Linked DNA regions of Homo sapiens. The protein of the gene in region 1 purifies or fractionates together with the protein of each later gene. This does not show direct contact. Each region holds a gene or a part of one and is shown in the gene's direction. Other genes may lie near its edges.

Region 1 (3,217 bases):
CTCCTGACCTCAGGTGATCCTCCCGCCTCGGCCTCCCAAACTGCTGGAATTACAGGCATGAGCCACCGCTCGGCCACCTCTGGAGTTCTGATTGTTCCCACAGAAGAGACAGATCTGACAAGTGGGGCTCCAAGGTCATGGCTGGTGGCTATGCTTTATGGTGAGTCTGGGCATCTCTGAGTCTGTGTTCTTTTTCCTTTTCTTCTCACCCTGTCCTCCTAGGCAGCAATCAGCATCTTTGGCATGGTTGGGGGACCGCTGCTGGGACTCTTCTGCCTTGGAATGTTCTTTCCATGTGCTAACCCTCCTGTGAGTGATGCATCTGGATCCACAGTCATGTGTAGCAGGATGGACCTGGGGGTTGGCAGGGCTGTCACCAGGAGAGCTGAGGACTGCCGTGAGGGCTGGCAGGACTGGCCTTGTGACAGGCCTGCACTGTGTCTCGGCAGGGTGCTGTTGTGGGCCTGTTGGCTGGGCTCGTCATGGCCTTCTGGATTGGCATCGGGAGCATCGTGACCAGCATGGGCTCCAGCATGCCACCCTCTCCCTCTAATGGGTCCAGCTTCTCCCTGCCCACCAATCTAACCGTTGCCACTGTGACCACACTGATGCCCTTGACTACCTTCTCCAAGTAAGGCAGGGCTTGCTATCTTCTTGTTTTCTCAAAGCCCTCCTTTGAGGGCTTTCACAGGGGTCTTGCTAAGGGATGGGCCACCAGAGGCCCCAGGGAAATGTTGGGTATTGGGTCCCAAGACCCTGGGACCATGCGGGCAAGTAGAGATTGGTGCCCAAGGAATGCCCTGCCAACGAATTGCTAATTGTTCTCACCTCTGCTCTTCCCAGGCCCACAGGGCTGCAGCGGTTCTATTCCTTGTCTTACTTATGGTACAGTGCTCACAACTCCACCACAGTGATTGTGGTGGGCCTGATTGTCAGTCTACTCACTGGTAAGGGTGTGGGATTGCGGTGCAGATGAGCACCGAGGGGTTAACAGAGGGCCCTAAGGGACTCTAGGGAGAAAGGCTCCTGCCCTCTGAGCTCTTGGGTGTCCGTAGCTGTCAGGCTTTTCTGCTGGGATGTAGGAGGTGGGTGGGGGCTGGGGTCTCTGGGGGCCAAGGGAGGACATGGGGCCCGCTGCTGTGGATGGTTCCACCCAGAGACTCAGAAGCACATTTCCATTCAGGGAGAATGCGAGGCCGGTCCCTGAACCCTGCAACCATTTACCCAGTGTTGCCAAAGCTCCTGTCCCTCCTTCCGTTGTCCTGTCAGAAGCGGCTCCACTGCAGGAGCTACGGCCAGGTAGTACCTGCTGTCCAAGTGACCCCTCCCTGCCCTTCTCCACAGATGCCACTGACTCTTCAGGTTCCCTTCTACCCCTTTTCTCTCCCCCTGCCCCGGGTGCCTCTCTCAGGATCAGCTAAGCCTAGGCTGTCCCACACGGCTGTCTCAGGTTCTACCCACAGGACTGCACTGGCTTGGTGGGCAGAAGGATCTCAGGGCTCAGAGGAGCTCAGCCCCAGCCTGGGCCAGTCAGCTCCCCTCCCCAGCCCACCCTGTGCTCCCTGCTGTGCTATGCCCTCCCTCTTTTCCCCCTGCTCTCCCTCCCGAACCCAGCCTTGCTGGGCTCCCTTCTGGCGGGGACCTTTTTTGTGTGAATCCTGTCAAGCACCCGTCATCCGTCTTCACCAGTTCCACCCCTTTGGCTCTGTGTTTGCAGGACCACCTCGACACTGGCCTGTTTCCTGAGAAGCCGAGGAATGGTGTGCTGGGGGACAGCAGAGACAAGGAGGCCATGGCCCTGGATGGCACAGCCTATCAGGGGAGCAGCTCCACCTGCATCCTCCAGGAGACCTCCCTGTGATGTTGACTCAGGACCCCGCCTCTGTCCTCACTGTGCCAGGCCATAGCCAGAGGCCACCCTGTAGTACAGGGATGAGTCTTGGTGTGTTCTGCAGGGACAGGCCTGGATGATCTAGCTCATACCAAAGGACCTTGTTCTGAGAGGTTCTTGCCTGCAGGAGAAGCTGTCACATCTCAAGCATGTGAGGCACCGTTTTTCTCGTCGCTTGCCAATCTGTTTTTTAAAGGATCAGGCTCGTAGGGAGCAGGATCATGCCAGAAATAGGGATGGAAGTGCATCCTCTGGGAAAAAGATAATGGCTTCTGATTCAACATAGCCATAGTCCTTTGAAGTAAGTGGCTAGAAACAGCACTCTGGTTATAATTGCCCCAGGGCCTGATTCAGGACTGACTCTCCACCATAAAACTGGAAGCTGCTTCCCCTGTAGTCCCCATTTCAGTACCAGTTCTGCCAGCCACAGTGAGCCCCTATTATTACTTTCAGATTGTCTGTGACACTCAAGCCCCTCTCATTTTTATCTGTCTACCTCCATTCTGAAGAGGGAGGTTTTGGTGTCCCTGGTCCTCTGGGAATAGAAGATCCATTTGTCTTTGTGTAGAGCAAGCACGTTTTCCACCTCACTGTCTCCATCCTCCACCTCTGAGATGGACACTTAAGAGACGGGGCAAATGTGGATCCAAGAAACCAGGGCCATGACCGGGTCCACTGTGGAGCAGCCATCTATCTACCTGACTCCTGAGCCAGGCTGCCGTGGTGTCATTTCTGTCATCCGTGCTCTGTTTCCTTTTGGAGTTTCTTCTCCACATTATCTTTGTTCCTGGGGAATAAAAACTACCATTGGACCTAGAATTTGGGCTCCTGTACTGTCTTCACCTGCTCTTGTCCACCCTACTGCATCCTCTGGTGAGGATAAGGAGTCCTATCCTATGTACAGGTCACCTTCCTGTGCTGAGGAGGGGGGCTGTGGCTTCAAGTCCCTGCTGTCCCTGTGTCTGCAGGGGACAGTGTTGTGCTCACCATGGTAGAAGATGCACACCCTCTCCTAGGGCTTCTCATCCCCTGGGGCTTACTTAGTCTGTCCCTTCTCCGGCCCCACTTTCCCTTTGCCAGAACCTTTTGCTCTCAGATTTTTACTTTTGGAACTGGAGGAAGAATGTTCCCATCTGATTTTAGAAACGGAACATTCTAGCTGGACTTTTATGGTCTTGTGAAGAACACTGTGCTCACACCCTCCCACACCTGGCCTCTGCCCCTGCCTGGCCCTGTTCAGCTGCCCACATCAGCTCTGCACCAGCTCTCCGGGGTCTCTTAACAGAGACCGGGTCCCAGGCATATCTGAATTCAGCCTCAACTGAG
Region 2 (7,030 bases), on another chromosome or scaffold:
CTTTAGAATGAAAATGCCAGACCAAGATACTAAGGTTTAGGAGTGCAATTGGTCCCTTTAATATGAAACTTGCAAATCGGGGACTCTAAGGTACCTTAAAAAGTTCAATAGCGTGGTAGGGTGACTATAGTTAACGATAGTATATTGTTTATTTCAAAATGGCTAGATGAGATGATTTGATTGATAGACCTTTAAGATTCAAGAGAGAAAAACAAAAAAGATGATTTGAAATGTTCCCAACACAAAGAAATGATAAATGTTTGAGGTGGTGGATAGGCTAAATGCCTTGATTTGATTATAACACGTTGTGTGCACATATCAAAATATCACATGTACCTCATAAATATGTGCAAGTATGATGTATTAATAAAAAAATAAAATAAAAAGTTATTATTATAGATTTCCCAAAGTGAAAGGCATGCCACTTAGTGGGTAGAAAGCAGTATTGCAGGGAAGAAACAGCTAGGATTGCGTGTATGATACTGGGTTTCAGGATATTGTCAGTTTGACCCAGGAAGATGGATGTGTAAACTGAAACTAAGAAGGGTTATACAATTATTCTAGAATTAAAGAGATAAGGAACATTAGTGACATGACCATATTGTTTGTATTAATAGAGGCATATATTGTTGAAGAAAGCATTTATTCATTTATAGCAGTAGTTCTGAACCAGGGGTGATCTTGTGTCCCCCAACCCCTGCCCCTGCCCCAGAAGACATTTGGCAAAGCCAAGACATTTTTGGTTGTTGCAAGTGGAGTGTGTGTGTGTGTGCGTGTGTGCATGGTCCTGGCATCTAGTACCAGTGATGCTGCTAAACATCATACAATGCAAGCACAGTCCACCATGACAAAGAATTGTTTAGCCCCAAATGTTAATCATGCTGGTGCTGCAAAACCTGGTTTATAAAAATTAGATTCACATATTTTTGAACTAAAAAGTGCCTCCAACAGGTTTAGTCAAAACTCTTCTTCAGGCCGGGTGCGGTGGCTTACGCAGTAATCCCAGCACTTTGGGAGGCTGAGCAGGTGGATCACCTGAGTTCAGGAGTTCGACCAGCCTGGCTAGCCTGGCCAACATGGTAAAAACCCGTCTCTACTAAAAATACAAAAAATTAGCTGGGTGTGGTGGCAGGCACCTGTAATCCCAGCTACTCGGGAGGCTGAGGCAGGAGAATTGCTTGAACCTGGGAGGTAGAGGTTGCAGTGAGCCATGATTGTGCCACTGCACTCCAGCCTGGGCAACAAGAGCGAAACTCAGTCTCAAGTAAACAAACAAACAAACAAACAAAACAAAACGAAAAAACACCCCACAGAACTCATTTTTGGATATTAATACAATTAGACCAGTTTGGCTTCCTAATGAATAAGCTATACTTTGTAAATTGGATTCATTTTATCACCAATAATTATGTAATTTTGTATACTGCTTCCAAAAGTCAGGAAAACTTTGAATCTTCACATGTAATTCTCCCAAATCTTGCCTTTCCTTCTCACCAATTTAAAGGTAATTGGTAATTAAAATGCAATTGGTCCATTTAATGTAAAACTTCCTAATTGTGGACTCTAAGGTACTTTAAAAAGTTCAATAGCATGGTAATTTAAAGGTAAGAAGGAAAGGGGTCTTTCCATCCTCCATTTCCTCCTACAATGCTCATTTTAATAGACTAAATAACTCAACCACTGACCAGAAGCAAATACGGTGAGCGCATTTAAAATGTAGATGGAACTTGCCTTTTTTGTGAGATTAGGATTTAATTTCCCCTAGACCTTTATAAGGAAATTTCTTTAGGCTCTAGGCAGATAGGACCAAGCTTATTCTTACTGTTTTGAAATGCAACAATTTTCAAATTATCTTTAGAGTCTGAGATAATTAATTCCTTTCTATTGGAATTATTCTGTTTAAGCAAGTAAAGTGCTTGATTTACTTCCTTAAAAAAACCTCTGATGTTATTCATTTTGCCTTATTGATGTTAATAATGGATTTAATGGTACCCCAGAATAATACTGGTATAGACACACAATTCAGTAGTGTCTTAAAGATTACATCATATATTTTTTTAAGTCCAAAGACTAACCATATATTTTGCAAAATTTAAGACTGTTAAAATGTAAAATATTTAAAGAAATAATATCCAGGCTGGGTGTGAGTGGCTCACGCCTGTAATCCCAGCACTTTGGGAGGCCAAGGCGGGCGGATCATGAGGTCAGGAGTTCCAAACCATCCTGGCCAACATGGTGAAACCCCGTCTGTACTAAAAATACAAAAAAAACGTGGTGGCACGTGCCTTTAATCCCAGCTACTCGGGAGGCTGAGGCAGGAGAATCGCTTGAATCAGCGAGTTGGGGGTTGCAGTGAGCCGAGATCGCGCCACTGCACTCGTCTGGCAACAGAGCAAGATTACATATCAAAAAAAAAAAAAAAAAAAAAAAAAAAAAACAAGAAAAGAAAAAAAAGAAGTAATATCCAAACTCTGAGCCTAAATTCGCAAAACTAAAATTCCAAAAATAAGCGAATGTGTAAAAAGTATGGAAAGAACAGACTTAAACAGGAAAGTATAAATATTCACAGGTGGTTTTTTTCCCCTTAGTTTTGCTAGAAAGTGTGCTACAGGTCTAAAGACTTTTCTCTACGGGAAGTGCTTGCTTAGAAAACCACACGTGAAAAGTATTTGAACAAGTCTATTCTTTCTTGATAAGTAATGAAGTGTAGAGATTTACTACAATTTTCCTACGTTTTAAACACTTAGTGTTTAGGGCAGTATTTCTGACATCCAGCAAAATGCTGGTTACATAGTAGGCACGCAAAAAACATTTTGTTAAATGAATTAAAATTAATGAATACATATTCAGATAAAAAAAATTCTCCTTTTGCAGTGCATACACCCGTGAAGCTGTCACCTACCTAGCAGCTAATCACGTTTCTCCAATTTCCTGGTGCCAGCATAATCTGTTCACACATCAAATAAGTGTGCCAAGCTAGTTTTTTTTCTTACCCAAACCTATTCCTTCTTGTTTCCTATTTATCAGAATGCAACCACAATCCTCCTACTCACCCGTTCCTCATTTTATTTGACAAATGCTTCCTTTCCCGCCTGTACAGACTGACACTCACTGACGATATTCTGCTTCTACCCATGTTTCCCACAATTGGTCTCAATTTCTGCTGCCACAGCCTCCACTACCTTTTGCTTGGACCAGTGAATACCCTCTGATTTTCCGTTGTCAGTCGCTTCTCATCAATCTATTCTTAATCTTGTTGCTTCGTTGCACCTCTACTCCCTCACCTTCCACCAAACAACCCAGTTAGCGTAGAGATTAGGAGAAGAGATTCTGGCTCTGAGCTTAACATAGTGATTGATCAAGAATTTAACCTCTGGAGCCAAACTGCCTGGCTTTGTCTGCCATTCGAGGACTTTTCCCAACCTCATTTCTCACTTTGTAGTCAACCCAAAACACCTCCCTCCATCTCCCACCTAGCTTGTGTTTCTCACTTAACTTTTAAAGTCCAGCTCACATGTCACTTTACTCACTTCCCAGAATTGTAATCTTCGTTTCGAACTGCTCTCGCACGGCAGCTATACTTCTCAGTACCTGCTTTTGTACCATTATGTGCGTTTTTTCTCTTTTTATAAAAAATCTCTTTCAGGGAACGCATAGTTCTTGAGGTCAGGATATTATTGTTTTATTTTTATATCTCCAGTAAGTCACAGTGTGACTTGCACTGTGGTTGCTCGATAAATGTTAGGTGAATGACATCAATTTACAGAAATAAATCCAACTCTGAGCGTCTCCCCTTGAGGACCGTGTTTTGTTCATCTGCACGCTCTCCAGGTCCTGCACTGCGCCCAGGACCAAGAAGACGCTGGACCCTTACTAGGAGAACCGAGGCAAGAGCCGGCTGGAGCCGCGGGGAACCCGCTCGCCCCGCCCACCCGCCTAGCGCCGGTGAGCCTGCGGCTCCCGCGAAGCGCGGCCCCGCCCCCTCGGCGCCAGGGCGCACGCGCGGAGCTGGAGCCGGCGCGGAGGAGCGGGCGGCCGCGGCTGTGCCCTCTCCTACTCCTCACCGCGCGAGCGCGGGGAACCAGTAGCCGCGGCTGCTTCGGTTGCCGCGGTCGGTGGTCGTTATGGATTCTCCATGGGACGAGTTGGCTCTGGCCTTCTCCCGCACGTCCATGTTTCCCTTTTTTGACATCGCGCACTATCTAGTGTCAGTGATGGCGGTGAAACGTCAGCCGGGTGAGTGCGGGGCGCCGCGGGCCGGACCCCTCAGAGTGCTCCTGACGGCGAGGACCGTCTAAGTCGGGTGGGTCGGGTGGGTCGGGTGGGCGGCTGAGTGGCCGCTAGCCCAGACAGTTCGATGGTAGAGTTGGAGGGGCGCCAAGGGCCGGTTGGTCTGACTTACTGAGTGCAGATGGGGAAACAGCGTGGGGGAGGACGGAGGCTCTAGTACTCCTCAAAGGAGGCGTGACCTGGGGTCCGCGAGGCCGTAGCCTGGGCGAGCAGGGCCGACCTTGCCAACCGCCCGCAGAAGTCCCAGGACTGACAGAAGCTGCCGCAGCGTTTCGGAACCACAGATATCCGCGCCAGCCCAGGGCTTGGGCGGCCTCCTCGCGGTACCGCCACTCGCTCGCAGTGTCGCCACTCGCTCGCAGTGTCGCCACTCGCTCGCAGTGTTTGAAAGTCATGTGAGGAGACAGCAGGTTTCTGACTCAGTCTCTTGGAGTAATAGATGGTTGCGGACTACTCTCCAGTTATGAAAGTTGTACAAGCACTGAAACAAAAAGCCTCCTGTAGCCAGACCAGGATTCCCCTTCACGCAGTGTCCTAACACCCTGCCTAGCATGTGAGAAGCGAGTGCGTTCCCCTTTTCACAGTCACGACGGACACTGTACAAGCAAGAGTTACCTGGCGTAGTTTCACTATCTGCAGAATGGGGATATAGTCTTGAAACAGCATTTTGAGTTCTTTTAGCAATGCGATCAAGGGACAGTAGTTGTATTTTATTGGATTTTACACCAGGGTGCGTTTGCTCTAATACTGCTTTACTTTTGTAGTTATTCTACTGTGCTTTTAGTTGTATGGACCTCTTCTTTCTTTGAGGTCAGACATTTCTTTGCCTACTTTCTTTGTGTTCTTGCTGTCTTTCATCTGCCTTGCCCTACGGATAGTTGATGAGTGAGGTCTGGAGGATGATGCTGTATCTTTCTTATGGACTACTTACTGGTTTTAAAAAATCCTTAGACCTCAGAAATATTTTTCATTTATGTTGAAGTTTGTAGCTCAGTTTAAATCGTTGGTACAAATTTTGACCTGGATGAGGATGGTATTACTGCATTAAAGTAGAACACATTATCTGCATAAGATATTATTTCTTTGATTTGAAAAAAGTAAGTTTTGTTGCTACTACATGTTCAGAATTTGATTAAAAAAATTTTTTTTTGTATAGGCTGAATCAGATGTTCACATTGTGGTCCAGGGACCCATGGGATTCTCTGACACTGCCAGTTTAAAATTACTTTCGTAATAATATGCAGATGTTATCTTTTTCACTCTCATTTTTTCAGAAGTGTACAGTGGAGTTTTCCAGAGGCTACCTGAGTTGTGATACTGTAACAGAAGGAAGTAGATATGAGAATCTAACAGTTTTCTATTTGAAGCCAGACATTTGTTAGAATGTACACAGTGTGATTCTTCTCACTAAATGTTTTTTGTTTTGGAAAAGTTATTTTTCATAAAGAATACATTATCATTATTATTATTATTATTTTTGAGACGGAGTCTCTCTGTCGCCCAGGCTGAAGTGCAGTGGCGCGATCTCGGCTCAGTGCTGCAACCTGTGCCTCCTGGGTTTAAGCGATTCTCCTGCCTCAGCCTCCGGAGTAGCTGGGAGGCGCCTGCCACCAAGTTCGGCTAATTTTTGTATTTTTAGTAGTGGAGACGGGGTTTCGCCATGTTGGCCAGGCTTGAAGAATACATTATTTATGTTAACATTTAATACATTTACTTTTTAAAAAATGAAAACATGAAGAACAATTGTTGCATAGTGGACAGGTCTATGCAGTCCTATCCCCAAAGGCTGAGGAAGCTGAGAGGCTGAGGAATCCAGTTTCTTAGAAAGAAACCTTTAAAAGGGACTTAAGAACAGAAGCCATGTCTTGGGTGGCCCCAAGGAGATGGTGGATCACCCCATTACCCGACCCCCAACCCCCAACCAGAGATGTGTAGGACAGTTGCTTAAGAGCAGGATTTATGGTAAGTGAAATAGCGTCAAGGTTGTTTGACCTAAGGGCAAGATCGGTAAGTGTATACTTTTACACAAGGAACAGTAGATAAAATATAAATCTTAGAGGCAATCCCAGAACTGGGGTTAATCATAAGTCAACATGGCGGATGTTGGAGTTGCTTTAGCCGCCACAACTATTTAAAATTTTCTCAGTTATAATTTCTAAGATGCTAAGTATTGATACTTGTAGCCAACATAAACAAAACCTTTTGGGGTTGTCAAGAAATTTAAGTCCGATTTTTTAAAAGATGTAATTCACATAGAATCTGTTCACCATTTTTAATAAAAAGTTCTGTGTTTTTGGACAGACACATACAGTCATTCAACTACCATCACAATCAAGATACTGAACGGTTTCCTCACCCACCCTAAATTCCTTCCTGCACTTTTGTGTAAGCTGTCCCCTATCCTTGGCAAGCATTAATCTGTTTACTAATTTTTAGGGATGTAGAGGGCTCCTGAGATTCCATAATTTGAGAACCACGTGATTATTGAATACTTATATAGTATCATACAGTACCAGTACTTGTAAGGAGGTAAAAATGATGGAATTCAGACACAAGAGTGAACAGTGTACCTGTTTAGCCTTTTACCCGAAGTGTGTTAGACTGCCCATTTCCTTTGACAGTTCTATTATTGGTCTTCAATATCTTGCCATTCTGATGATCAGAAAGCAATTTTTCATTTATGTTTGTCATGGTACTGATGTGTTTGTGCCTCTTATTGGTCATTTGTATTTCATGTAAA

What was found.
Region 2: the proteins of SLC5A6 (region 1) and TMEM38B purify together in Homo sapiens (affinity purification with mass spectrometry; 2 studies listed by BioGRID and IntAct, with this or other methods). This does not show direct contact.

What each region holds. Positions count from the first base shown.
Region 1 is NC_000002.12:27,199,080-27,202,296, reverse strand, and holds the end of SLC5A6 (sodium-dependent multivitamin transporter), read left to right. Parts: intron 1-222; coding exon 223-309; intron 310-449; coding exon 450-631; intron 632-843; coding exon 844-947; intron 948-1,183; coding exon 1,184-1,299; intron 1,300-1,717; coding exon 1,718-1,861; coding exon of another isoform or gene 1,862-1,907; 3' UTR 1,908-2,710; downstream 2,711-3,217. UniProt on the Homo sapiens protein: Sodium-dependent multivitamin transporter that mediates the electrogenic transport of pantothenate, biotin, lipoate and iodide.
Region 2 is NC_000009.12:105,690,537-105,697,566, forward strand, and holds the start of TMEM38B (trimeric intracellular cation channel type B), read left to right. Parts: upstream 1-4,004; 5' UTR 4,005-4,124; coding exon 4,125-4,236; intron 4,237-7,030. UniProt on the Homo sapiens protein: Intracellular monovalent cation channel required for maintenance of rapid intracellular calcium release. Acts as a potassium counter-ion channel that functions in synchronization with calcium release from intracellular stores.